2 linked regions of the Homo sapiens genome follow. The protein of the gene in region 1 interacts with the protein of each later gene in a pairwise test. Each region holds a gene or a part of one and is shown on either strand. Other genes may lie near its edges.

The links. Proteins that work in one complex are often made in the same cells at the same time.
Region 2: the proteins of TMEM185A (region 1) and KLKB1 interact in binary tests that used the Homo sapiens proteins (3 or more experiments, as listed by UniProt).

The regions. Positions count from the first base shown.
Region 1 is NC_000023.11:149,600,779-149,607,802, forward strand, and holds part of TMEM185A (transmembrane protein 185A), read right to left. Parts: intron 3,293-7,024; coding exon 3,209-3,292; coding exon of another isoform or gene 3,194-3,208; exon of another isoform or gene 2,928-3,193; intron 1-2,927.
Region 2 is NC_000004.12:186,222,800-186,230,513, forward strand, and holds the start of KLKB1 (plasma kallikrein isoform 1 preproprotein), read left to right. Parts: upstream 1-4,707; 5' UTR 4,708-4,788; intron 4,789-5,395; 5' UTR 5,396-5,396; coding exon 5,397-5,454; intron 5,455-6,071; exon of another isoform or gene 6,072-6,190; intron 6,191-7,714. UniProt on the Homo sapiens protein: Participates in the surface-dependent activation of blood coagulation. Activates, in a reciprocal reaction, coagulation factor XII/F12 after binding to negatively charged surfaces.

The DNA.
Region 1 (7,024 bases):
TCCAGAGGCCCACTCTCCCACACTCTCTCAGGCTCCTCTAGGTTCTGCTGCCATCACAGCTTCCCGGGAAATGGGACACAACTGTCACCCTGTGCACACACACAAGATCTCACCCCAACAGACTCTCTTCACAGGCAACATTCCCACAACCTGCTGGGGGTACTTTGGCAACACAAATGGGAATGGGCTCCCCAGAAAGTCTGGCTGCCTGGGCTCCTAAGGATCCCTAACCTCACCCCTACCAAGTTAGTGAACTTGGCGGGTTGATGCTGGATACAGGTTGATGCTGGATACGTAGCGCTGCCGGGTCCCCGCCTCCACGGCAAGGGCGCATTCCCAGTATGTCCCTGTCGTACCAGGTAGACCTTGTCTCATCCACACACAAGCCCAGAGGACGAGTTCCGGGGGCGCCACTTGGCCAGGCTCCCCTGTGACACGTCTTCGCCCTCCTGCCCTGCCTCCTGGGACGACACTCCTCCGTTCTCCCTTTTTATTAATTATCTATCATACAGTAGGAAAAGTGACCGTCTTCCTTTGGTGTGAGTTCCCTGAGTCTTCACACAAGTAGATTCACACAGCCGTTGGCAGGATGCAGAAGAGGTCTGTCACCCTGCAAAACTCTCCGTGCTGTCCCTTCACTATCACACCGTCCCCACCATTAGCCCCGGCAAACACTGATCTGTTCTCTCACTGTACTTTTGTCTCTGCTGGAACTTTATGTAGATGGCATCGCGAGACAAGTAACCTGTTGAGACTGGCTTCCCGCCATCCACATAATGTCTCTAATGAGATTCATCCAAGTTGTTCCCTCCCTGTATCCACAGGTCGTTCCCTCTCAGATCTGAGTGGTATTCCATTGTATGGATGCCTACAGTTTATCTGACTGTCCGCTGAGGGTGGTTTGTGAAAACCAAACAAGGCCGCTATCCAAAATGCAAACAAGACTGCTACAAACACTGGTGTGTGGGTTTCTACAAGGCTGCGCGCTTTCACTTCTCTGGGGGTAAATCTTATACCCAGGAGTGGGGCAGCCAAGTCCCACGGGAAGTGCGCTTTTAACTGCATCAGAGATGGCCAAACCATTTTCTACAGTGCCCGTACCACCTGCCTTCCCGCCAGTAACACTGGAGTGTCCCAGTTCCTCTGCATCCTCCCAGGCACGTGGCCTCGTCAGTGTTGCTGAGTTTCACCATTCTGAAGCCATGTGTTTCGGGCCCTCATCCTGGTTGTAGTTTGTCTTCCCTAACCTGTAATGGCGTTGAGCATCTTTTCCTGTGCTTTTTCGCCATGTGTATATCCCCTTCGCAAATTGTCAACTCTTTTGCCAATTTTTAGGTGTTTCTTTTTGCAGTTTTGAGTTTTTAAGAGTTCTCTGTATGTTCTGGGTGCAAGTCAGTGTTTTGATGTGTGCTTTGCAAATATTTTCTCCCAGTCTGTGGCCTGTCTTCATTTCATTTTAATTTTGAGGAAGTCCAAATTTATGATTTCTCTCTCGTATGGACCATATTAACAGTGCCATTTCTAAGTACTCTCTGCCTAATTGCAAACCCCAAAGATTCTGTCCTATGTTATTTCCTAACAGATCTATAGTTTTACATTTTCTTTTAGATCTATGATTTGAGTTGGCATACGAATTTTACTTCTCCTGACCAGTTCTTGATTGTAGGTTTCTCTGCAGAGTCTATGCACAGCCTTTCTTCCCCGTTCCCCATTCTGTGATGAGATTCTCCTTTTTACTGAAGTTCCCTTCATGGGTGGAATGTTAGATCTCAATAGGCTTCCTTGTTTTCTCTTGCTCACTATGGGAAACATGTACTCAGACTGCTTCATCAACTGGGATCTACAGAGGATGAAGGGCAGAAAAAATCTTTCTTCTCATTTGTGGAAAGCTCTCAAAATTACTAATCTTTTTTTTCCCTGACAGTATCTTATACGAAAAAATTTGGTCTTGTTTAGATATGTTTCCTTCACGTCACAACAGAAACAGTTTTGAACCCAATGACCATTCTCCAGATACAGCACTGTGAAGTTGTAGGATGAGTGACTGAATATTTTTTATTATGAATGTTTTATCAAAGACTTTGGGCAGAAGTGATTATTCCCATCTTTAAATATGGAGTATACTTAGGTTCCCTTCATTTCTTCTCTGCTCCCAATTCTTTACTATACTTTTCACTTTTTAAGGGTAGCTATATTTAATACATAAAATATATTGTATGCAAAATTATACATCAAACAACAGAGAAAATAAAACCGAACAAAAACACTAGCATGACCTTACCTCCCAGTGGCAATGGAACTCTTCTGCCTTTAGTCTCCATCTTTTTTCCATGCATTTAATAGTGGAATCTATACTGTGTTCTCTAATTTCTACCTTGCCACTTATCTTTCTATCTCTGCATCCATCTACCCATTTATTCACAGTTAATTTCAACCAAATGCCCAGTAACTGAAGTCACAGTTTAGAAGCATGACATAGATGCCACCACCAGCAAGAGTGTAAATGGGTATGGCTTTTTTTTTTTTTCTTTTGAGACAGGGTCTTGCTACATTGCACAGGTTGGTCTCGAACTCCTGAGCTCAAGTGATCAGCTCACCTCGGCCTCCCAAAGTGCTGGGACTGTAAGTGTAAGCCACTGCGCCTGGCCAGGTATGGCTTTTGGAAAAGCAAGTTGGCAGTGCAGTATACGTATATAGGAATCTCAAATAGTTCCCAACCTCTAGCTCAGTAACACTATTTCTGGACTATTTCCTAAGAAAACAACCAAAAAACAAAAGGCAAAAATTTTAATGCATAAACATATATACTGCAGTATGATTTAAAATCATTCAACACTGGCAACAATGGAAATACCATATTTTAGAAATAAGAGGATGGTCTGATACATGCACTTGAAGAATATTTTGTATCAATTAAACTTTAGAAGTCATGTTTATAAAGACCTTTTATTAACATGATAAAATGTTTATGATACAACATTAAAACAAAAAAATCAGGATACAAAATGGTGCACACAGTTATATCCAAACTGTTTGTATAAAACACAGACATAAAAACACTAACCATGTTATCTCCCCATGGTGGGATTATGGGTGACTATTAGGCTATTACTTCTGCTTGTCCGTCTTTTCCAAGCTTTGTACAGTGAATATGAATTACTTTTATAATAAAAAAGAACTTTATTTAAGGATTTTAAAAGTTACATACAAGCCAGGGCCAGTGGATGATCTTGTCCAGTCTTAAGGCAATGAATATAAACTGGAGAATGTTGACAGAACACAGGATTTCTAACTAAAAATGAAGAGAAGAATCAGTTAAACAAAGTATAATTTGCATTTAATACTGCAGTAATTTGGTTAACACACTAAAAGACAATACACATTATAATACAGTGTAACTTGTATAATATTATATTGCACTGGAAACTCCTGATTTTCGGTACCAGAGGGGCACAGCAGTATTATGGCAAGGGGAAATGGGGCTCAGCCTGCTGCCTTGCCCCTCTGCTGCCTTGCCCTTTCTGGCCTGAGGCCTGAGCACAGATGAGAACCTTGTTTCCAGGTTCACTGGGAACACAGGCTAGCTGCAATAGACCACTAAACTTCCTTCATGTCCCTACCAACAATACTGTCTACTCGAAACCATCCTTGTGCATCCTTCTTCTCATACCTCGGTTTTGCCCTTGGACCCCACCCCTTCCTTTCAGGCTCCTTGAGGACCTTGTCACATCAAGCCATCAACTGTAGATTCCGTACTGTATCTTTAACCCCACCTATTCCATTGATCCCTCCTAGCAGCACAGAAATGACTCCTTCTCATTAAAAACAAAAGCCCCGAAACCAGATAAACCCACCCCATCCTTTGATCCAAGACCCCTCTTAGCCTCAGGTTTCTCTCTGCGAGACAGTAATGAATATGCAAGCCCCTACTATCTCATCTACCATTCCCAGCTTCCTTGTGATCTGGCCTCCACCCCCATGACCACCAGAAGACAGCTTTCATCAAAGTCACCGATAACCGGGAGGCAGCAAAAACACTTCAACTGGCATCCTACTGATACTGTGGATGACTCTTTCCTTTTTGCTCCCCTCCTCCTGGCCATCTAGATCCCACCATACAGTCTTGGAGCCCTCTGGAGTGTTCTGGTAATTCCTTCTGTCTCCTTTTCCCCCTCCTTAAATGGTGATGCTCCGCAGAGCCACAAACTCAGTCTTCTCTCCCGACTAGGAAGACAGACACACAAACACACATATTTTCACTCACCCGCTGCACCCTGGACTGGGGGAGAAGAAATTTCAACCAGACCCTTGGTCTGCATTATTACCTCCTTCATGGTTAGTTCTCACATCTGTCTCCAACTTAGCCTTCCTGCTGCATAGCAGACCCAGCTGTGCATAGGCCACTCGGCTCTCCTAAAGGCACCTCAAATGAAGCCAGTCCCAAATAGAGATCATTATCGCCTGCACTTAGAACCTTGTATCTCCTCTTTCTATAGCCTCCCATGTCACTTTCTATGGCCTCCCATGTCACTATGGCCTCCCATGTCACTTTCTATGGCCTCCCATGTCACTTTCTATGGCCTCCCATGTCACTTTCTATAGCCTCCCATGTCACTTTCTATAGCCTCCCATGTCACTTTCTATGGCCTCCCATGTCACTATGGCCTCCCATGTCACTTTCTATGGCCTCCCTTGTCACTTTCTATGGCCTCCCATGTCACTTTCTATGGCCTCCCATGTCACTTTCTATGGCCTCCCATGTCACTTTCTATAGCCTCCCATGTCACTTTCTATAGCCTCCCATGTCACTTGGAGGCACAACAGTGGTCTCATTTCTCAAGCCATGAGCCCGGGAATCACCCTGCATTCTTTTTCCCACACTGTCACGTTCAGTCACCACATCCTGTCCACTGTAAAGTCCAGATTTCTCCTGAATCCCGTGCCCACTTCCTATCCTGATGATGACTGCCTAGTGAGGCCTTCTTCGGCACCATCCGCCTACCACTTCAGCAACCCCTTACTAACCTCCCGCCTCCAGCCCAAACGCCCTGCAGGCTGCTCCTCACTCTGGTAAAGTACATTCTTGCCCACAAAATTGAAATCTGGGACCAGGCCCAGAGCTTCCCAAAAGTTCTCAGTACATAGGTACATGGGGAATTTAGTAATTCCTCCATAGACCTCTAGGCCAAAAGAAATCCCTAATGTGGCTGGGAATGCCAACAGTTGCACTGATTTAAGTAATTACATCTAACTTAGTAAGTATTTCTAAGTAGCCACTAGAAAAAATAATTCATATAAATCTAAAGAAAAATGTTAATATTATTCTTAAATAACCAAAACTAATTCCCAGTGGGATGCGTGTGCCTGTCAGGTAGCTCACCATTTCCCACGCCTTGGAATCAGACAAGGTGCTCCCACTCGTTACCTGTTCTTCACCCGGATTTTCACACAGCATTAGCCTTTTTTGTTTTCACAGCAACTGCTGAAAACCCAGCTTCTTAAAGATACGACGTCACTGAAAGGAATGCAGTGTGGCCTAAAAATAAACCTGTAAACTATTTCAAGCTAGTAGTTTGTATGGTGTCCCAACAAATGTCAGGTATTACTGTTTTCCTCAAAATGTCCACTATCCCCTGGTGCCCTGTGAGTGCACTGGGGTGCCTGGGGCACTTCAGCACATGCTCTGTGGGCTGAGGACGTGGCCCCTATTTGCCCCAATCCCTCTGTAGAGGCTCCCTCTCTTCTCAACTCCCACAGTTCCTTCCTTTCCACCTTGTGCTCCCGTCGGATCTGAATCGCCACAGTCCACTCAGCTGATGGAGTGTTTCCTGCCTCTAGGCTTCAATGTGTCCCAAAAATGCCATCCCTTCCCTCCCAACACAGGGCTTCCTGGCAGACCCTCAACTCCTCCTTCCCATCTCTGTATGAGCCTACTCCAGACCACCCCCTCACCAACATAGGTACTGTTCTTGCATCACAGGAGGAGGGAGCTCAGCTCCTGGTATGTTGTTTCTTCCAAGGGCAGGAATGCCTAGAGTGTGAATATATGAAAGACTTACTTTCTGTAATTCAGGCCCAATGCAGTCCTAGTCCTTGTATAGTTGTCCCTCAGTATCTGTGGGGGATTGGTTCCAGGACCCCCTGTGGATACCAAAATCCATGGATGCTCAAGTCCCTGATATAAACTGGGAATTGTAGGGAGGGTGAAAGTGGACCATCAGATACTCTCCCTCCACGGCTCACTCCTACCTACCACTATACCCATGCTGTGGCCTTTCCACCAGCATGAAAATCAGGGAATAGCTCCCCTTGTTCAAGGCCAAACCCTTCCTGGTGCTCTAGGTCCCATTCTCCCTGAGTCCCACAGGGCCTTGCTCCATCACCGTCCCTCTGTCTACATACCTTCCCCTCACGCCCATACCTGGGGTCTAGGCTTATATGCCTGACCCACCCTACAGCTGCTATGTTTACTTCCTAAGCCAACTGCAGTCTTCTCCCTTCACTCTTCATCCACACGGCTCAAAACCAGGCATCTACAGCCTCTAGTTCTCCCCTCAACCCATCAGTATTCAGCTTTGGGCCCTCAGCTTCTATGCAGTTATGTAGTTATGTGCCCGGGCTTTAGAGTCGGGCTGACTCAAACGGAATCCTGGTCCTGCCCCTTCACATGTGGCCATGAACAAATGACTTATCTTCTCTGGACCTACCTCACAGAGTTAGTTAGTAAGAAAACTACCACATGTAATGTGCCTCGCACAATGCCTGGCACACAGTAAGTGCTCAATAAACGTTATCTGCAATTACTTTCATTACTATTATTACTAGTCCTGGTATTTTATTCATCTGCATATCCTCTATGCTTAGGGAAAAAGGGCTTGGCATCTAGTAAATACTTGATAAATGTTTATTGAATGAATAAACAAACACAGGGGCACATCAGGATAAGCTAACCAGACAGCAGGGGAGGTGCTAAATCATGGGGTCTGAGGTGGGGAGATGGTCAGTTTTGAGTGTCAACTTGGCT
Region 2 (7,714 bases), on another chromosome or scaffold:
GAATTCCCTTTAGCATTTTTTGTAAGGCAGGTTTAATGGTGTTGAAATCCCACAGCTTTTATTTGTCTGGTGATATGATTTGTTCCTGAACTTCCACCCAAATCTCATCTCGAATTGCAATCCCCAGGTGTCAAAGGAGGGACCTGTTGGGAGATGATTGGATCACGAGGTGTTTTCCCCCATTATGTTCTCATGATAGTGAGGGTGTTCTCATGAGATCTGATGGTTTAAAAGTGGTGGTTACCCGTGCGCACATGCTCTCTCTCTCTCCTGCTGCCTTGTGAAGAAGGTACCTGCTTCCCCTTCACCTTCCACCATAATTGTAAGTTTCCTGAGGCCTCCCCAGCCATGAGGAACTGTGAGTCATTTAGACCTCTTTTGTTTATAAATTACCCAGTCTCAGGTGATATCTTTTAGCAGTGTGAAAATAAACAATACAGAGAATTGGTACTGGCAGAGTGAGGTACTGCTATAAAGACAACCTGAAAATGTGAAGGCAACTTTGAAACTGGGTAACAGGCAGAGGTTGGAACAGTTTGGAGGGCTTAGAAGATAGGAAGATGTGGGAAAGTTTGAAACTTCCTAGAGACTTGTTGAATGGTTTTGACCAAAATGCTGATAGTCGTATTGACAATGAAGTCCAGGCTGAGATGGTCTCAGATGGAGACGAGAAACTATTGGGAACTGGAGCAAAGGCCATTCTTGCTATGCTTTAGCAGAGACTGGCAGCATTTTGCCCCTGCCCTAGAGATCTGTGGAGCTTTGAACTTGAGAGAGATGATTTAGGGTATCTGTCAGAATAAATTTCTAAGCAGAAAAGCATTCAAATATAACCTGGCTTTTTCTGAAAGCATACAGTCAAGTCATATGCGTTCACAAAGAGATGGTATGAAATTGGAACTTATGTTTAAAAGGGAAGCAAAGCATAAAAGTTTGGAAATTTTGCAGCCTGACCATGTGGTAGAAAAGAAAAACCAATTTTCTGAGGAGGAATTCAAGCCGGCTGCAGAAATTTACATAAGTAATCAGGAGCTGAATGTTAATTGCCAAACAATGGGGAAATGTCTCCAGGGCATTTCAGAGGTCTTCAAGGCAGCCCCTCCCATTACAAGCCCAGAGGCCTAGGAGGGAAAAATGGTTTCATGGGCCCTGCTGCTCTGTGCAGCCTTGGGACTTGGTGCCCTGTGCCCCAGCCACTCCAGCTCCAGCTGTGACTAAAAGGGTCCATAGCTCAGGCTGTCGCTTCAAGGGTGCAAGCCCCAAGCCTTGGTGGCTTCCACGTGCTCTTGGGTCTGCGAGTTCACAGAAAACAAGAGCTGAGCTTTGAGAGCCTCTGCCTAGATTTCACAGGATGTGTGGAAACACCTGGCTGTCCAGGCAGAAGCCTGCTGCAGGGACCCAGCCCTCATGGAGAACCTCTATTAGGGCAGTGCAGAGGTGAACTGTGGGGTTGGAGCCCACACACAGAGACCCCACTGGAGCACTGCCCAGTGGAGCTGTGAAAAGAGTTCCCCCATCTTCCAGATGCCAGAATGGTAGATCCACTGACTGGAAAGTTGCAGGCACTCAGTGCCGGCCCATGAAGGCAGCCGTAGGGGCTGTACCCTGCAAAGCCACAGGGACAGAGCTGCCCAAGGCCTTAACAGCCCACACCTTGCATCAGCATGCCCTGGGTGTGAGACAGGGGCTCCAAGGAGATTATTTTGGAGCTTTAAAATTTAATGACTTCCCTGCTAGGTTTTGCATATGCTTGGGACCTGTGGCCCCTTTATTTTGGCCAATTTCTCCCATTTGGAATGGGAACATTTACCCAATTCCTGTACCCACATTGTGTTTTGGAAGTAACTAACTTGTTTTTTATTTTAAAGGCTCATTGAGGGAAGGGACTTGCCTTGTCTCAAATGAGACTTTGGACTCGGACTTTTGGGTTACTGTGGAATGAGTTAAGACTTTGGGGGACTGTTGGAAAGACATCATTGGTTTTGAAATCTGAAAAGGACATGAGATTTGGGAAAGGCCAGGGGAAGAATGATATGGTTTGGCTCTGTGTCCTCATCCAAATCTCGTCTTGAATTGTAATCCCCACATGGGATTACATGGGAGGGGCCTGGTGAGAGGTGATTGGATCATGGAGGTGGTTTCCCCTGTGCTGTGATCTCATGATAGTGAGGGATTTAAAAGTGACAGTTTCCCCTGCACATACACACTCTCTCTCTCGTATCACCTTGTGAAGAAGGTGTCTGCTTCCCCTCTGCCTTCCATCGTGATTATAAGTTTCCTGAGGCCTCCCCAGCCATGGGTAACTGTGAGTCAGTTAAACCTCTTTTGTTTATAAATTACCCAGTCTCAGGTAGTATCTTTACAGCAGTGTGAAACTGGACTAATACATCTGGGAAATTCTTTTTGTCTCCTTCCTTTCTGAAGGACAGCTTTGCCTGATATTATATTCTTGGTTGCCAGGTTTTGTACTTTCAATACTTTGAATATATCATCCCACTCTCTCTTGGCCTACATGATTTCTGCTGAGAAATCCACCAATAATCTTATGAAGCTTCCCTTGTATGTGAAGAATTGCTTTTCTCTTGCTTCTTTGAAAATTCTCTCTTTGTCATGGTGAGGATTTCTTTTTTTTTTTTTTTTTTTTAGATGGAGTCTAGCTCTGTTGTCCAGGCTGGAGTGCAGTGTGCAGTGGCGCAATCTCGGCTCACTGCAAGCTCCGTCTCCTGGGTTCACACCATTTTCCTGTCTCAGCCTCTGGAGTAGCTGAGACTACAGGTGCCCACCACCACGCCTGGCTAAATTTTTTTTGTATTTTTAGTAGAGATGGGGTTTCACTGTGTTAGCCAGGATGGTCTCGATCTCCTGACCTCATGATCCACCCATCTTGGCCTCCCAAAGTGCTGGGATTACAGGCATGAGCCACTGCACCTGGCCGAGGATCTCTTTATATTTAATCTATTTGGAGTTCTTTTGGGCTTCATAAATCTGGATGTTTATTTCATTTATGTCTCCAAATTTTGAGAGTTTTCTATTCTTATTTTTTTAAATAAGTTTCTGCAACTTTCTCTTTCTCTACTTCTTCTGGAACTCTTCTAATGCATATTAATTTTCTTAACAGTGTCCTATAAGTCTTGTCAGCTTTCTGCAATTTTTATCATTCCTTTTATTACTCTGACTGGGTAATTTCAAATGACCTGTATCTGAGCATGCTGATTCTTTCTCCTGCTTGATCTAGTCTGCTGCTGAAGCTGTTTGTGAATTTTTTCAATTCAGTCATTTTGTTCTTTAGCTCCAGAATTTCTGTTTCATTCTTTTTTATGGTTCCTATCTATCTTTTTGTTGAACTTCTAATTTTGCTCATGTATTGTTTTCCTGATTTTGTTTACTGTCTATCTATATTGTTTTGTAGCTTATTGAGCTTTCTTAAGGCAATTATTTTTAGCTCTTGTCATGCAGTAAAGATCTCCATTTCTTTAGGGTCACCTCCTGCTGCTTTATTTCCTTCCTTTGGTGGTTTCTTGTTTCCCCGATTATTTGTGATCAGTGTGGCCTTGCACTGAAGTAGGCACCTATTTCAGTCTTTACATACTAGCTTCAGCAGAGAAAGCCATTCACTAGTCAGATTGACCAGAGATTGTTGGTGGGCTGTCTGTTGGGGTCTATGCACAGGATTTCTGCTGGAGTTCTAAGGTGGGAAGGGCTGGATTCTGGGTTCATTCACTGTGGTTGTCTGTATTCTGTGCACAAGGACTGGCTTGAAGCATGGATCCTTGGGGGCTGACTTGGCACTGAAATGAGCCTTAAGCCTGCGTCTGCAGGGGCCAGCCTAACATGGGGATCACCTGGCACCTGAGTTCATGGGGATAGGCCTGTTCCTGAGTTTATTCAGGCTGTCCTGGGAACAAGGTCCACTGGGGTGAGCCCAGCATCTGGGTCCACATGGCCCAGCATGGAGCCAAGATCTCTGGAGGCTGACCTGGTGCTGGATCTGCAGGGGATGGCCTGGATTCTAGGCCCATGGGTGCCAACTTGGAGCCTGGGGTTGCTGGGGCTAACGTGGAGGCTAGATAGAGTCTTGGGGGCCAGGCTAGAGCTGGAGCAGGCCTGAAGTCTAGGTTTTGTGTGGCCATCTTGGAGCCTGAAGCCCCAGGGGCTGACCTGGTCTGGGGTGAGCATGGGGCTGAGGCCACAGAGGCTGGTCTGGCCTGTGGCAGGCCTGAATCCTGGTGCTGGGGTTTACTGGAGTGGGCTTGGTGCTTGGGATCTGTGGTGAAGTTAGGTTCTATCTTAACTGTCCCTCCTCCATGCAAGAGGGCATCTCTCTCCATACTGTGCTGCCCAGGCTTGAAGGTGAGATGACACCGGTAATGTGAAATTGTCCTTCCTATACACTTCTATGTGTCTTTTCTTATTTCTGTGCTGCAACCAGGTGGCATAACCTCTCACCTGATTCCTTAGCTCTAGTGAAGTTATTTTCGTGCATGGATACTTGTTCGAATTGATGTTTCTGCAAGGGATGAGCGCTAGAAACTCCTGTTCTGACAAACTCCTATTCCTATTCTTGCTGACATCACTCCCTGAAATAGTTAATATACTTAACAGCTGAACACGGATAGGATGTTCATGGAATATGTTGACAGGACAAAAAGTTGAAACTGTTGGCAGAAACCCAAAGTCAATATTGAAGCCAAGCAAAATATTGCCTGCAGTGCCACATTAGAACAGCTTGAAGACCGTTCATTTTTAAGTGACAAGAGACTCACCTCCAAGAAGCAATTGTGTTTTCAGGTAGCAAATTTTTATTATTCTGATTGTTTCCAAATAAACTATAATTTTTAAGTATAATTTTTTACTTTATGAGAAAATTAATCATTTATATTCTAATTTCCTGAGTATGTAGAGAGTATAGATAATGTTCCTTTATGTAGAAATATTTAAATGTAAGATGATTTTAAATCAGAAAGAATATTTGATTGATTTAAAATTTTTAAATGGGCTTTAATATTTTCAGAGGTTTTCTTTACTTAGGGATTTTTGGACTGACATTATTGCCATTATTTATTAATTTTGTTTTTGCCCAAATCAAGAGGTTTCATAATTGTTTACTCTCTCTCTACCAATTCCCTTTCCAACATTACTAGCCACAGAGTTGGCCAATGAACAATAAACACAACAGTAGTCTGGAGGTCTCAATTTGTATCTTGGGAAGCATTATAAATTTTCCAACTCCCTAGACACAAATGTACCAAAAAAAAACCCTTGTTTTCTATACCAGTAATTGTGTGCTTTGTCTTGCAATTCAGACATTTACAAGAAAATCTAAATCACCTTAAATTAAGATTTATGTTAAATGTGGTCTAAAACCAGCAGAGTTATGTATTGTTTTCTTTTTTAGAATGATTTTATTCAAGCAAGCAACTTATTTCATTTCCTTGTTTGCTACAGTTTCCTGTGGTAAGTGAATTATCTATAAAACATGGAATTCAGGCTAAGACAGGAGTAGCCAAGCAAGTGGCACCACCCCTGGAGAAAGCTATTGAACATACAGCTTCGGGGGTGGAGATTGTCCCTGATGATTCAGGACACGTGTCTATTTAATGTTCCACAACAAGGACCACTTGTCAGGTATATTGCTGTAGACATATGTTGCAGACCAGAGGAAGGAGCTCAGAAGTAGGAATGTCTTGGGACTTGTGTTAACAAAAACTTCTGTTCGCAGATGACACTCTGCAAAGCAAAACTTGAAACAAAAAAAAATTAGTCCTCTATTTTTATTATCAACAGTAAAAAATTAAACTTTATCTGAAAATTCAAAAGAGTGCTAGGCATTTTATAGTGTCTGGGTCCAATCCAAGTATCTGTTAGGAACACCATACATAGTTTTACTCTGGACCGCTAGGGAACCATTTCAAAAATGAAAGTAACTGGTTTAAATTTAACTTAGCAAACCATGCATTTGGATAGTTCTAGGTGAATAGCTTTCAACACCAGATTTAGATCTCATTTCTCTATTAATTTCATTAATTTTTGGAGAATAAAAATGATTCTGGACATTTCATTAATCATTACAGAGGGAGTTTTCTCTGTGTCCCCACAAGGCATGATTCTGGGTCTATGGTGACTTAAGAGGGCCACACAACAATGAGTATTTAATTTTCCTCAGATGTATGGCTACAATAAACATCTATAGGTAAGGTTTACATTCATAAAGAGACCTTTTTTTTTCCAGGAAAAAAGACTTTTATTCCCCCTAAATCACAACTCCCCTGTGTCTGTCCCTCAACCCTGATTTCTCTTCTAAACCGTAATTTACAAACCCATGTGCAAACCCACTGAAAGGTGAGAAGGAGCATAAGCCAGAGACACTGGGAACCACAGCCAACTACAGGGGGTTTTTCATTTTTTTGTTTTGTTTTGTTTTTTGGCAAAATAAATCATGATTATGGCTAGGAAAATCAGGGATGTAAGTAAGCAAAAATTTAGAAACTACATATTGCATGTAGTCCCCAAATTCAGAAACAGTCATCGTTAAACATCTTTTATTTAGTCTTTCAGATATTTTTCTACATATACCTATTTGCACATTTCACAAAAAAGAGTTATTAACTGTGGACACTCTTTGACTTGCATTTTCCACTTATAGCTATCTTTTGGTGCAAATAAGTAATATATTTTGGAGCTTGCTATTCTTCTCTTTTTATGGTATTTTTGTGTGCACATTCTTATGCTCTTATTCAGTTATTTCTGTAGAATACAATTTTTGAAATAAAAATACTAGATTCAAAGGTGTGAATATTTTTGAAGGTTTTGTGGTGTGGTATCATGAAATTAGGTTTCAGAAAGTTTACTCCATAGTTGACTTTTTCTACCAGCTAATAAGAGTGCTCATTTACCCCACTTAGGCCAACTCTAACAGGCTTCTGTTGCTTTGCATCCTGACATATTTATCTTTCTGGAAACAGTGTCCTAATTTATTTCTGCAGAGCTACTGCCTCTCAGTTTTGGTCCATGTGGTTCTGGTGACCCTGATTCTTCTGCTGAACCAGAAAGTGCACACATCCTCCTGGCTGTGGTGACCCAATCAGAGCCAACGTCTTGCAATGAAGCTTTTCTTTAGACATCTAGAAATAAGACTCTTATGTTTTTTTTTTCCAATTTGACTTGAAACTTAAGACAATACACAGGCCTGAGTTGTTGGTACTATTTTGCTACTACGTGGAGCTTGAGAGTAATGGTAACACCAAGACTGGAGCAAGTGGAAGGAGACATATTGTCCACTGATGCTATCAGTTGAGCACAATGTGCAGTTACTTTTTAAGCCAGATTCACCATGGGCTTTTTGGCTCCTGAACCAATAGATTTCATTTGTTTTCAAGCCACTTTGTACTAGGTTTTCCATCATTTGCAATCAAAACCAGTATACAAACACTGGTTATTTAATTTTTCATTTTTGCTAATCTCAGGGATAAAATGGCTTCTAGTTGTTTTAACTTGGCTATATTTGTGATTCTTCCCATTTTCATATACTTACTAATCACTTCTATTTCTTTTGTAAATTATCTTTTCATATTTGTTATCTAATTCTTTAAAATTTGAGTACTTTAATTCTCATTATTGTTTGTGGAATTGTTAAACAAGACTGAATAATCTGCCCAAAGTCCATGGACATGGGGGCCCATGTAAAAGCTTTGAAAGCCACCATCATTATGAGATA